2 linked regions of the Homo sapiens genome follow. The protein of the gene in region 2 purifies or fractionates together with the protein of the main gene of each other region. This does not show direct contact. Each region holds a gene or a part of one and is shown on either strand. Other genes may lie near its edges.

What was found. The genes of interacting proteins can lie anywhere in the genome.
Region 1: the proteins of CHSY3 (region 2) and P3H4 purify together in Homo sapiens (affinity purification with mass spectrometry; 2 studies listed by BioGRID and IntAct, with this or other methods). This does not show direct contact.

What each region holds. Positions count from the first base shown.
Region 1 is NC_000017.11:41,808,931-41,816,302, reverse strand, and holds the start of P3H4 (endoplasmic reticulum protein SC65 precursor), read left to right. Parts: upstream 1-4,353; 5' UTR 4,354-4,387; coding exon 4,388-4,849; intron 4,850-5,018; coding exon 5,019-5,171; intron 5,172-5,268; coding exon 5,269-5,440; coding exon of another isoform or gene 5,441-5,623; intron 5,624-6,468; coding exon 6,469-6,597; intron 6,598-7,372. Other genes in the region: peptidyl-prolyl cis-trans isomerase FKBP10, read right to left, coding at 3,024-3,268. UniProt on the Homo sapiens protein: Part of a complex composed of PLOD1, P3H3 and P3H4 that catalyzes hydroxylation of lysine residues in collagen alpha chains and is required for normal assembly and cross-linking of collagen fibrils.
Region 2 is NC_000005.10:129,907,455-129,914,475, reverse strand, and holds part of CHSY3 (chondroitin sulfate synthase 3), read right to left. Parts: intron 6,400-7,021; coding exon 6,116-6,399; intron 1-6,115. UniProt on the Homo sapiens protein: Has both beta-1,3-glucuronic acid and beta-1,4-N-acetylgalactosamine transferase activity. Transfers glucuronic acid (GlcUA) from UDP-GlcUA and N-acetylgalactosamine (GalNAc) from UDP-GalNAc to the non-reducing end of the elongating chondroitin polymer.

The DNA of each region.
Region 1 (7,372 bases), on a different chromosome or scaffold from region 2:
GCCGAAATCGTGCCACTGGACTCCAGCCTGGCGACAGAGTGAGACTCCCTCTCAAAAAAAAAAAAAAAAAAAAAAGCCTATTCTAAAAGTGCCATGGCTTTTGTTTGTTTTTAGTTATACACTTTTAATTAATGTATTTATTTTTACTTATACATATGTATTTTTGGAGATGGAGTCTCGGCTCTGTCACCCAGGCTGGAGTGCAGTGGTGCAATCAGCTCACTGCAACCTCCACCTCCCGGGTTTAAGCGATTCTCCTGCCTCAGCCTCCGAAGTAGCAGCTGGGATCACAGGCATGCACCACCATATCTGGCTAATTTTTGTATTTTTAGTAGAGAGGGCTTTCGCCATGTTGCCCAGGCTGGTCACTCTTGGCCTCAAGTGATCTGCCTGCCTGGGCCTCCCAAAGTGCTGGGATTACAGGAGTGAGCCACTGTGCCCAGCCAATTATATACACTTTTAATTTATTTTAAGTTTTCAGAAGTAAAGTGAGGATGGGAGATTTTTTTTTTTTTAATTGAAGGGGCCATGGGTTAAGAAAGTTTTCTGGCCGAGCGCAGTGGCTCACGCCTGTAATCCCAGCACTTTGGGAGGCCGAGGCGGGCAGATCATGAGGTCAGGAGATGGAGACCACCCTGGCTAACATGGTGAAACCCCGTCTCTACTAAAAATACAAAAAAAATTGTGGAGGCGCCTGTAGTCCCAGCTAATCGGGAGGCTGAGGCAGGAGAATGGTGTGAACCCAGGAGGCGGAGCTTGCAGTGAGCAGAGATCGCGCTACTGCACTCCAGCCTGGGGGACAGAGCAAGACTCTGTCTCAAAAAAAAAAAAAGTTTTCTAAGTTGTGTGGGCGCGGGGGCTCACGCCTGTAATTCTAGCACTTTGGGAGGCTGAGGAGGGTGGATTGCCTGAGCTCAGAAGTTTGTGACCAGCCTGAGCAACATGGTGAAACGCCATCTCTACTAAAATATGAAAAATTAAGGCTGGGCGCCGTGGCTTACGCCTGTAATCCCAGCACTTTGGGAGGCCGAGGTGGGCGGATCACGAGGCTGGGGTGGCATGTCTGACTGTGTGACACGTAGACAGACAGGGCCTCCGCAGGGAGCCATGCCCTACCCCCAGGTCCAGCTGGCTGTCTTCTTATAATACCCACCCGCCTTTTTCAAGACCAGTCTGGCCAACATAGTGAAACCCCTCTCTACTAAAAATACAAAAAAATTAGCCGGGTGTGGTGGTGTGCACCTGTAATCCCAGCTACTCGGGAGGCTGAGGCAGGAGAATCACGTGAACCTGGGAGGCAGAGGCGGAGGTTGCAGTGAGTTGAGATTGCTCCATTGCACTCCAGCCCAGGCAACAGTGTGAGACTGTGTCTCAAAAAACAAAAACAAACAAACAAACAAAAATTAGCTGGGCGTGGTGGCATGCGCCTGTAATCACAGCTACTTGGGAGGCTGAAGCAGGAGAATTGCTTGAACCCAGGAGGTTGCAGTGAGCTGAGATGGCACCACTGCACTCCAGCCTGGGCGACAGAGTGAGCCTCCAGCTAAAAAACAAAAAGTTTTCCAAGCTCAACACTCATGAGCTGGGCTCCCAGAGTCCCCATCAGGGATGACATCCCCTAAATCCCAACCCCTGCCTCACTCCTAGCAGTCAAGGGCTCAGGGCTGCACTTCTGGCTACTACCCTATATCTGAATTTGCCCACCAAGCAGACAGGTTTTAAGTCTGGACTGTTTCCTTCTCAGTGTTGTTATGAAGGCTTAAGCTCTGCATTAAGTTTCTACAAGTTCCACAGCATCAGGTCATATGGTTTTCCTCAGGGTCAATGTTAATGTGTGCTGAACTGGCTGGAGGACTGCCAGGCCCTGTGAGAAGCCTACGTTCATTCATCCATGTCCTTGGAGTCCTAACATCAGCCTTAGCAAGTAGGTCCTGTTTTTGTCTCCACTTTTCAGATAAGGAAAGTGATGCCTAAAGAGACAAAATTCTCTGTCCATGGTCATAGCCTGGATTTGAACCAGGGTCTTGGGACTCTTGGAGTTTGTAGGCTTACCCCAATATATGCCTGCCTCTAAAGTCATGGCCACTAATTTCCTGTGGGCTGAGTTGTGTGTTTCAGAGGAGGGTCTAAGAAACACTGACTTCTTTCAGTGTGCTGTGGGGTCTGTGTGTAACTGGGACCCTAGATTTACCCCTGAGGCTGGCATACAGCCCTGCCCTGTCCCCGCTAACAAAAGTGGACTTGCTGGGGCAGACCAAAGGCCTGGGTCAGACCAGGAGGCCACCTTACAAACCCCAAGGCTGGCAAAAATGGGCGGCCTGTGCCTCTGGCCTGGTGTACCTAAAATGGAGAGAGATGAGGGTTCCAGGAGAACCAGAGAGGGAGGAATGAAATTCCTCCAAGGAGCCCAGGGTGGCATGTCCGACTGTGTGACACGTAGACAGGGCCTCCGCAGGGAGCCACGCGCTACCCCCAGGTCCAGCCGGCTGTCTTCTTATAATACCCACCAGCCTTTTTCCCTGCCCACCAGCCGCTGAAAACTCCCACCCCCTCCAAAAAAAAGTTCTATTCCCTCTTCTCTGACCACAAAGGCACTGAAAACAGTGGAACCAGAAGGGGAGTCAGGGTGGGTGGAAAGGTACGGGGTCCAGGCTGATAGACCATCCCAGGGTTCTTAAGCAGCAGGGACCACCCCCTTCCCCCCAACACTGTAGATCAGAACACCCCTCTCCATCAGGTCATTACATACAGCCCTGGTAACTACACAAGGCAGTTCACCTTGATTATCGAGTCCTTTCCGGGATGTGGAGAGCTTGTGAGAAAGAAATGGGATCCTTTGAGAAGTGAGGGTTTGGAAGTGGGGGCAGGAGGGTATCTTTGGGGAGATGGGTGTCTGGGAGGCCCCAGGGGTGCTGTCTAGGGTTAGAGTATTGGGATGCAGAGCTTAAAAGAGGCAACAAGGAAACAGGACCCCGGGTTCAGGGGACGGAGTGGTGAATCCGGGGGCGCCCAACCGGGGTTACCTTGAATCAAACTTCTTGCCATCTTCAAAAGTGCCGTTGTAGTGGTAGCGCACAAAATCCCCCATCTGCACTTCCCGGGGACAGGCCCTGGGGATGTGGTACCTCTCGATGACCACATCTTCCAGGGGGCCCCCGGCCGGGCTGGCGCGGCCCAGCCCCCTCCCCACGGCCTGCACCACCAGTAGCAGCAACTGCAGCAGGGGGAGCCGGAGGAGGCTGTGGCTGGGGGGGCCCGCGGGGAACATGGTGCCTGGAGTTGGGACCGCCGGCAGTGAGGGCGAGCGAGGGAGTCGCCACCAACCTCCTTCCCCCCGCCTCCCAGAACTGGCTCCCCCTCTTCCTGTCCTCTTTCCCTACCCCCGCCCTGGCTGGTCCACGTGGAATGGGGGCTGGGAAGACTGAGCTGGCCTGGCCGGGAGGAGCGGGGGAGGGGGTTGCAATAGGAGGAGGGGGCCAGGCTGAGTGTGTTAGAGTCTGAGGGAGGCACTACAAAGAACTCTAGGTTCCCCCTCCCCCCATCTCCATCCCTGGCTGCGAGACCTGGGGCCTGGCCAGGGAGAGAGGCTCGGGAAAGATGAGAACTCTGAGTGGACACCAAAGGAAAAAAAAAAAAAAAAGTTCAATGACTTTTTCCGGAGCCCCCGGGTCCTAAAGCCGGGCGGAGATGAACCTTGCTTCTTTCGCGGGCACTTCGAATTCTAGTCCCCTCCAGGTGGGTGGTGAAGCCGCGGAGTGTGAGAGGCATCTCCGTGCTCATCCGTGACCCCAGCTGTACTCCAAGGGAAGGCATCTCCAGGGAAGAGCAGCTTGGTCCCGCAAAAGCTGGACTGAAAGAAGGACTTTGTGACTTGGGATGTGACGGGCACGGAGATGGAGTGGGGGGTGGTGGCAGCGCAAGGTGTGCAGGTGACAGCAGGTGTGTGCCTCCGACGTGGGCGGGGGAGACACTCGGAGGGTGCAGGAGGGCGCAGCGACGGAAGGCCCGGCTCCAGGGCTTCCTTCTCGTATGGGCAGCGCAGAGGAGGCGGCCCTCACTCAGTGTCCTGATCTCAGGCGGGGGCACTGTTTGCATGGGGAGGGGCTTCCTGGGCTTCCCATCTCTGGCGGGAAGCGCTCCCCGACGCATTCTCTACCTAGGGGACACCCCCAAGGCAGGAGCCCGGGCCGACGGAGAGGACTTAACGACACTATCGGACCCTCTGGGAAAAGAGGGGAGACGTCGTGACCCAGGCCCCGCCCCACCTTGCCGCCTCGTGCCCGGCGCTAAGACCCAGCGGGCGCGCCGCCCGCCCGGGGCCCGGCCCTGTCCCCTTCCGTCCGCGGGGCAGCCAGCTCAGCTCCGGAGAGCCGGCGGCGCGGCGGGCATGGCTCGGGTGGCGTGGGGGCTGCTGTGGTTGCTGCTGGGCAGCGCCGGGGCGCAGTACGAGAAGTACAGCTTCCGGGGCTTCCCGCCCGAGGACCTGATGCCGCTGGCCGCGGCGTACGGGCACGCTCTGGAGCAGTACGAGGGAGAGAGCTGGCGCGAGAGCGCGCGCTACCTGGAGGCGGCGCTGCGGCTGCACCGGCTCCTGCGCGACAGCGAGGCCTTCTGCCACGCCAACTGCAGCGGCCCCGCGCCCGCGGCCAAGCCCGATCCCGACGGCGGCCGCGCAGACGAGTGGGCCTGCGAGCTGCGGCTCTTCGGCCGCGTCCTGGAGCGAGCCGCCTGCCTGCGGCGCTGCAAGCGGACGCTGCCCGCCTTCCAGGTGCCCTACCCGCCGCGGCAGCTGCTGCGTGACTTCCAGAGCCGCCTGCCCTACCAGTACCTGCACTACGCGCTGTTCAAGGTGGGAGCCCGCCCCCACCCGGGGACCTGTCTCGGGCTGGGCGTCGTGGCTCCCCACAGATCGGTCGAAGGAGCGTTATCTTCACCCAAGGCACGAAGCCCGCCGTGCGCTCGGGGCCGCGAGCTCCGGTCTTGCTGACCCGCTCCCCCACCCCCTACCCCCCGACCAGGCTAACCGGCTGGAGAAGGCGGTGGCGGCGGCCTACACCTTCCTCCAGAGGAACCCGAAGCACGAGCTGACCGCCAAGTATCTCAACTACTATCAGGGGATGCTGGACGTCGCCGACGAGTCCCTCACGGACCTAGAGGCCCAGCCCTACGAGGTGGGGTGGAGGGTCAGGAGGAGGCTTGTAGAGGAGGGCTAGTAGAGGAGGGGAGATGTTGGGGGCGCCCTGACTCCCCCTGCCACGCCCCTTCCAGGCCGTGTTCCTCCGGGCTGTGAAGCTCTACAACAGCGGGGATTTCCGCAGCAGCACGGAGGACATGGAGCGGGCCTTGTCAGAGTACCTGGCAGTCTTTGCCCGGTGCCTGGCCGGCTGTGAAGGGGCCCATGAGCAGGTGGACTTCAAGGACTTCTACCCGGCCATAGCAGGTATCTGCCACCCAGACCACGGTGGGCGGTCCTCTCACCCACAGGGCCCGGTAAGGCAGATGTCCCCTTCATGCACGTGGAGCACTGCGAATGCGGAGGAGCCAGCCGGGAGGAAGGCCTTGTCTGTTGAGAAAGACGCTGGGTGCAGGGGCCCCAGCTGGGAGTGTCCAAGGGGCTGGATCAGTGAGTAGAGGCAGTGACATCCCTAAAGGGTTTGGGAAGCTTGGGTTCATAGGCCTTCCAGGCAGAGGGCAGTGCAGATGCAAAGGTGCAGCGGTGAGAAGTAACCCAGCAGATGTGTGCAGAAAGCAGTTGATAACCAGAAATTACACCTAGTCTTGGGATCTCTAACCCTGGGGTCCCTCGAGCAGGGGCAGAAAGGACTGTACTTGGCCAGGTGTGGTGGCTCACACCTGTAATCTCAGCACTCTGGGAGGCCGAGGCAGGCAGATCACGAGGTCAGGAGTTCAAGACCAGCCTGACCAACATGGTGAAACCCCGTCTCTACTGAAAGTACAAAAATTAGCTGGTCGTGGTGGCGGGCACCTGTAATCCCAGCTACTCGGGAGGCTGAGGCAGGAGAATCGCTTGAACCTGGGAGGCGGAGGTTGCATTGAGCCCAGATCGCGCCACTGCACTCCAGCCTGGTCGACAGGGCGAGACTCTGTCTCAAAAAAAAAAAAAAAAAAAAAAGACTGTCCTTTAGCTTCTCTGTTTGGACTTCTGCCCCATTTCTGGACCTCACCTGCTGCTCTCCCAGAATGCCCTGGCTCCCTCTGGCTTGGGGTGGTGGTTGAGTGGCAGGGGTGGTGAGTCAGCCCAGCCCACAGTCATCTTCCTCACCATCACTTGTCATATAGTATGCCAAGCACTTTACAGACATTCTCTCCTGTGATTGCAACAGCAACACATTTTCTGGACAAGCAGCTTGGCTTAGTAGGCAGAGATTGGATTTAGAGTCTTCTCCACTGGGGGGACGGAGATGTTCATTGCAATGCCAGCCTCTCACTGCTGCCTCCCACCCTCAGATCTCTTTGCAGAGTCCCTGCAGTGCAAGGTGGACTGTGAGGCCAATTTGACCCCCAATGTGGGTGGCTACTTCGTGGACAAGTTCGTGGCCACCATGTACCACTACCTGCAGTTTGCCTACTATAAGTGTGAGCCCCCTGGGTGGGCTGGCTTGGGCAGGGGACGAGGTGATAAGGGAGAGGACTGTATGGGAGCCTCCCAGAGTTGTGGGGAGCTTTCCTTCAGTATTGAGGACCCTGGGTGATAGGAGGAAAGTCTAGGGGTGGTGGGAATATGGGGAAGGCACCCTGGGAGTCTGGGGCAGGTGAGAGGCTTCTGAGTGAGAACAGACAGCAGCCTCAGGGAGAAGAAGAGGGTCTTTTGGGCAAATGACTAGACAACCAACAACTGCAGAGCACTTGACAGTTTATTTTTATTTTTGAAACGGAGTTTCACTCTTGCCCAGGCTAGAGTGCAGGGGCACGATCTCGGCTCACTGCAACCGCTGCCTCCCGGATTCAAGTGATTCTCTTAGCCTCCTGAGTAGCTGGGATTATAGGTGCCTGCCACCACACCCAGCTAGTTTTTGTATTTTTAGTAGAGACGGGGTTTCACCATGTTGGCCAGGCTGGTCTTGAACTCCTGACCTCAGGTGATCCACTGCCTCAGCCTCCCAAAGTGCTGGGATTATAGGCATGAGCCACCATGACCGGCCAACACTTGAGAGTTTATAAGTCACTTTATCTTATGTGGTCCTTTCACCAACACCATGCAGCTGGCATTACTGGACCGATTTTTCAGATGGGGAAACTGAGGCTTATAGGGCAAGGGGCTGTTGGTCTTATGACTAATAAAAAGTGGCACCAGGACTTGTGGCTCTCCTCACTGGAGAGATCCTGGCATCCACTGGGGCTGGAATGGACA
Region 2 (7,021 bases):
TACTTTGGGGGCATAAACATGTTCATGATTGAGTAAAATCAACATTAGAAAAGAGGGAAATTTGGCTGGGCGCGGTGGCTTACGCCTGTAATCCCAGCACTTTGGGAGGCCAAGGCAGGCAGATCACCTGAGGTTGGGAGTTCGAGGCCATCCTGACCAACATGGAGAAACCCCATCTCTACTAAAAAAAATACAAAGTTAGCTGGGTGTGGTGGTGCATGTCTGTAATCCCAGCTACTCGGGAGGTTGAGGCAGGAGAATCACTTGAACCTGGGAGGGGGAGGTTGCAGTGAGCCAAGATTGCAGCATTGCACTCCAGCCTGGACGACAAGAGTGAAACTCTGTGTCAAAAAAAAAGGGAAATTTATATGGAATAGGAAGCTAAGAAGGATGTGCAGCAGCCCTATAAGAATAACACAGATATTTTAACCTTAAAAATATGTTATTAAGAACTTATTGATAGTTCAGTTTCATATGGTACAGCTTTCTGATATTACTTACAAGCTCAGGAAAACACTTCCAGAACATATCCTTTTGTGAAATAATGTAATTTCCTAGGGTGTTTACAGACTTTAAGAAACTAAGATTGAACATAAAACATTCTAGTGTAAAATTATCACTTTAAGGAGTCTAATGAAAATCTAGTTAGTCTTATGAAATAATTTTTAAAACTACAGATAAATATTTTTACCAACATAGAACCCTGCTGTCTTTGAAATAACATTTAATTGAATGAAATAGATATCTTCTTTGGCTCTATTTTACTGCAAACATTAAAATGATAAATACAAACTATTCTTAAACTGACTCTTAGAAGAAATGCAAAACTCCTTCAAAGGGAGAAGAACAATAATCAGAATTAAAATTATTTTATGAATTGAATATAAGTGATCTTGTTAAAAACAAAATCAAAAAACAAAACTTTCAGTTCTGCTAATACACAAAATGAACATGAATGTATAAATAATTTTTAACAGTGAGAATATTTTTGTTATTTACTAAAAACATATCTATAATAAAATGTAACTATGTTATATGATATACAATTTTAATGGCCAAATTTGTAACATATTAACTCTTCCATAAATTAAAGTATTTTAAATATGCCTCTCAGTCTCACTGGAAAATCACTTCATTTTCTACAGAATATTATCATGAAACTTGCAATATGTGCATTATCTAGTTCAAAAGATCAAAACTTTTATGCCTATGTAAGCCAGGCAGGGAAAATAAACGTGAAAGAAGAGTCTTACAAATAATAAGAGGACATGAAGGGAACTGTAGATTGCCTGCCTCTGCTAAAGGTGTCAAAAAACAAAAACAAAAGCAAAAAACCTTAAAATACTCTATGTGCCAAACAGTGTTTAAGAGCCATATGCAGCCTCCCAAACTGCCAGATTGCAGCTCTAGAAAAGCAGTAGCCAAGATAGAGCTCAACCAAAAGTGTGATCTTTGCCAACAGGAGAGGCCAATAAATTCTAACACTTGCAGAGTGAATAGAATAGAATGCATGCTTCATTCAGTTAGTAATCTTTGCTTATAAAGTTTGAGGTATAACCCATGAAGTCTGTTGGTTATTAACATCTGCCATATGGCCTTAAAACAAGATGCCTCAATCCTAAGTGGGAAAGGGAGAATCTCAATTTAGACTCTCCAATGATCACAGGCACACAAAGAACCAGTCTGTATAAGGCTCACCCTCAACCAAAGGCCTCTTTATTCTGAACAGGTCAGACCATGCTGGAGGCCTAACTGTGATCTACTGTGGTCTGGGTGCACATCCAGTGATCTTTTAAGATATCTGGATTGGCCTATATGAGCACATTAATTTACTAGGAACCTGGTGAAAAGCAGTACATATCAAAATACATTTGAAATTTATTTTATCTATCACCAAGCGGAAGGAAATAGAAAAAGTGAGCAGAGAAGACAGAGAAAAAGAGCAAGAGACCAACAAGCAAGACATATTTCCCCAGACCACCTGGGCCTTATTGAGAGAAAGGCCAGAAGCTGCAGATCATTACCTCAAAGACCTGAGGTACACCAGGAGGAGGTTCCCACTGCCTTGAGAGACAAGCCCCTGGGTGTTCATGAGTTGACTGGAGAATGAGATACTACTCACTTCCTTCCCTACTGAAGATGCCAGAGAAATTCAAAAAAGGGGGCCATTGTTCTGGCAATTAATTTAGAAATCTATACTGTAATTTTTTTCCTTATGTAGATCTGTTTGGGATTCTTTATATATGTATATTAAATAATAACTTGTTAAGTAATATTTTCCACACAACATCCTCAAATTCAGTTATATATATCTTATACATATTAGGTGCAAAGACTGAAACAGATATTTGTAATGCATTTTTAAAACAGGTGTCCATATTTCATAGTAAGTTTTTTTGTTGTTGTTGTTTGTTTGTTTCTTTGAGACGGAGTCTTGCTGTCTCCCAGACTGGAGTGCAGTGGGCTATCTCGGCTCACTGCAAGCTCCGCCTCCCGGGTTCACGCCATTCTCCTGCCTCAGCCTCCCAAGTAGCTGGGACTACAGGCGCCCGCCACCACGCCTGGCTAATTTTTTGTATTTTTAGTAGAGACGGGGTTTCACCATGTTAGCCAGGATGGTCTCGATCTCCTGACCTAGTGATCCGCCCGCGTCAGCCTCCCAAAGTGCTGGGATTACAGGCATGAGCCACTGCGCCCAGCCCATAGTAAGTTTTACTAATACTGAATTCCTCATATTTCTAAAATACTGCAACATACTGGTTTCTTATTCTTTGCCAAAAAAAGCTTAACTCTCTGAGAATTTATTTTTTATTTTGACCCTTTTGATGTAAATGAATCACCCATCCATTACTAATGATTATTAAGTGAAATATATGAATCCATGTTGTATAATATAGTACGTGATATCTATAACATTAGAACAATAAAAACTAACATCTACTGAAAATTTACTATGTGACAGACACTACATTAAGGGCTTTACATGGATTATTTCACCTAATCTTTCCTGAAATGTATGAGATAAACACTCTTAAAATCTCCACTTTCAGTTGAATTACACACGACTTAAAGAAGTAACTTGCAAAAGACAATTAAACTAGTAAGTGTTAGGATGGTGGCTCAAACCCCAGTTCATATCCCGCTATTACCTTTCTCTCTCTTTCTCTTTTACAACATATTTTTAATAGTATATACAAACACAGAGAAAGTAATTTCAGTTTAGCAGTTAAGAAGAATACTAGAAGCTTCAATCCTGGATTTTTAAAAAATATAACTTATATTCAAGGAAACTATACAATTATATATTTTATTTAATAATTATTTCAATTCTCTTTTTATAAGATCTGTAAGCACGTTCACCATTTTTAAAAGATGACATTCTATCATGAACACTTCATCTATTCAAACTTAAAAATCATGAACATGCCACCTTAACAGGACTCTCAACTCTGAAAGAACTTTTGTTAGGAGGATAAACCAAAAAAAAAAAAAAAAATCCTAAAATTTGTGAAAGGCATAGATAAAAGAAATTTAAAAATTTACCAAAATTCTATCACAGATAGTGCTTTTAAAAGAACTATGGGAAAAAAAGTAATGATCAATTTCATAGCTTTTTTAATGAGCAGATGTAAAATCTCACCTTTACTGAGAATGCCAACCTGGAGTAGAATAGACCAATCTTTCTATATAATATGAACAGTATCATATATGGACACCATTTCCACTAACATAAAATCCAAATTAGAAAGTGAAGTATGGGATCTGTGAATGTTATAACCAGTTTAGCTGTGCCCCAAGTTACGTACTTAGGTGTCTCATGAAACATAGAACACAATCTAGTATTAAAATTTAGATATAATCTCTTTGTATATGTATCTTTACTAGTTTTGCTAACAATGCTTTTTCACATATCTCTTGGTAATAAAATTTACCATCATTTCTCTATATAAGACTTTTGAGATTTTTTATTAGAATTAAATCAATGCCTCCCTTAAATAAATACTGTTTAAATAGCTCCTTTAATGACTGAAATCCCAATACAAAGTAAATTCTATATAATAACTTAGCAAAACATAAAGTCAACAGTACTTATCTAGAAAATATTTTATAATGCTAGGAAAACATGTTGAGACAATTAGTTTAGTTTTATACGGATTCATAAGTCAGTGATGGTCAAGTGTCAGTCTAAATTCAAATGTATTACGAAAAGTTATGGAAAATGTTATATTCACCAGGTTACAGCCTGTAAGACTTGGAATCTCTTTTGTTTGCTCTTACATCAGTTAATAAAAGGATCTAAGATTGCACTTATTCTAATAGACAGGGTGCACATCTATAATATAACTTCTCTTCACTTTAACCAGAACAAAGGCCTATATTATAAATAAAATATTAAATCAATTTTTGAGCTCCCAATTTTTGTGCATATCTTACTGTCTTGAACATGAATGAATGGAATGCTAGGTGAAGACTAGGCCTTCACAGCAGAATCAATGAGAACTTGAAAAGAAGAACACCTAAACACTATCTTGGTTAAAATTTTATATATTATGTTAAGGTAATAAAGTATCCTATAAAACACAATAATTTCCCATCTATATTGTTAACTACAGGTGAGATTTTTTTACTTATCCACACAAATATTTTTTTACTTATCCATGCAAAGTAAATACCTGCAAAACAATAACAGCATGTAAACAAAATCAACTGAATATGTTCTCTGTATTGAATATTTTTGTCTTTTACTTTGTTTTATAACAAAGGAAGAAATATTTTATTGAGTTTATTCTAGATTACCTGTCTCTAAACTGTAATGTTTTTACATAAATTTTTATCCTAAAGGGTAGTTGTAGGATAGTTTTTACAAATTACCATTTTATTATCAAAAGAAATCAGCAACATAATCATTTCAAATTTTCATGCCTATTTCAAATGACTAATAAATTTTACTTTCTGTAATGTATAAAATATGTCCCCAAAGTATAAATACCACAAAGTATGAAAGAGAAAGCAAAATTAACTATAGTGAGACTACACTTACAATACAAAAAAAACAAATGAAACTGTGTGTTTGGTGACTTCACAGGGAACATATTTTCATAAAATGTTTCTTCTATACTAAGTGACATGAAAAGTTTGAAAACATAAGCAAAGGAGTTAAGATATAATTTACAAAGCTGTGCACTCCGTAGCTAAAATAATACTAAATTCCAACTACTTGAAAACCAAACTATACTAAAAACAATACATTATTTTAATGTTAAATAAATTTTTACTAAAATTATCTTTTAGGAAATCTATTTTAAATAAAATGTTATTACATTTCAAAATCAATTTCTGAAGAAAAAATCTCTAAGTATTTCATAAAAATGATCACGGCAATAAATAAATAGCTAAGATTATTTAAATAATGGTTCCTTTTCAGAAAATAGCATAAGAATAGACATAAACAAATTTTAGGGAACCTGTCAAAAATACTAAGCAGCTACTGCACACCATTTAAACTTCTGCTTTTTTCCAGACAACTCATTCCTTTTGTATGCCTAAGGAAATACAGTGATTGGAATTTTGTGAATACATCTACCATAAATGATACACTATTAGTTTACTTTTCTGATACTTTTAAAAATATGTTAAATTTCCACTGGAAAATATCCAAAGAAACTTCAGATTTTAACCATTTAAAAACAAAGAGATGCCATTACACACCTAACCAAAATAAAATAAAATAAAATAAAAAGGCACAGTACCAAATGCTAAAGGCTACAGCTAAAGAGAAGAGTAAAATTAAACCTCTTGTTAGAAAAGGGAAATAGATTCACATGTATATAAGCACCAATAAATCAAGCAGGGGAGGATATAAGCATCTTCCAGAGATGTGGCCATAAGTATAGGCCACTGCTTAAAGTTAAGGGGCATGCTAATAACAAAGTCTCAGACAGGCCTGACACCTAATGAGAAAGTTATCTCCCACTCTTGTATCCCTTAAGGGCTGCTACTATCACTTTCAAGTAAATACAAAGATACAGAGAGAATGAATAGAATCGCTGCCCTAGATTATAAAATGGCATGTATATGTACTATGTGAACATTTTCATCACAGCTCCATGCTTACCTCGTAAGACCAGACACACTGAGTCCCACCAAAACGGCGAACGCATCTTCCTACTTCCACATCCTCATGAGTCGTGTACATTTCTCTAAGGCATTCACCAATATGTGGCACCATCCTCCTGAGAACTTCTCGGCTAAAGATCATGCCAGGTCCTCCCATACAGAAGTTTTCCCCAGGCTCCAGTCCCAGCTTTCCAAGCTCTTCAATATTCCCCAGGCCAGTCTGTCCCAGGTAGAGAGGCTTACTGCTGTTTAGCGATCTAAGAAACTCTTCTAATTTATCACCTACAAAAAGAAAGGCAACAATTACTATGTCTCCTTATTTCATAATCACTTATCATGTACAAGGTAAGGGACAGAACTTTCAACATTGTGCTTAAAATCCTCAGTCTTACACAACTGAAAAGAAGAAAAAGCCTCTTCCAATACTCTATTATTTTTAAAAGACTAATTCATAGTTATTAATTTAAACATATTAAAATTGTACCAGCTTCTGGTTAAGGTCACTGAAAAACCTTAACAGCTCTGACAATCATCAATTTTCTGTAAAAAGTGAAATAATGACAAGGAAAGTAAAGACAGGTTTCTTAGTACATTTGAAGTAACAAGAAGTTCCCAGGAATATAAAATAATATTAAATACTGGTATTTAGCATTGTTTTGGCTGACTCTTAATACCTAATAATTATTTTTTACTCATAATTGGTTTAGTTCAGTGTTTTGCCATTAACTAAACTTCAGTCATATACAACCCGCACAGTTTTGGAGGATGTTTGAATCAAACCTGTCTTGAAATTTAATTTGGGAAGGCACCTTTTTAGAAAAAAGTTTGTCAAAAATTAGTGTAATTGGTTTCACTTGCAGTTTGTTAAGTTCAGAAAAAACGTTTAAAAATAAAATTTTGCAGC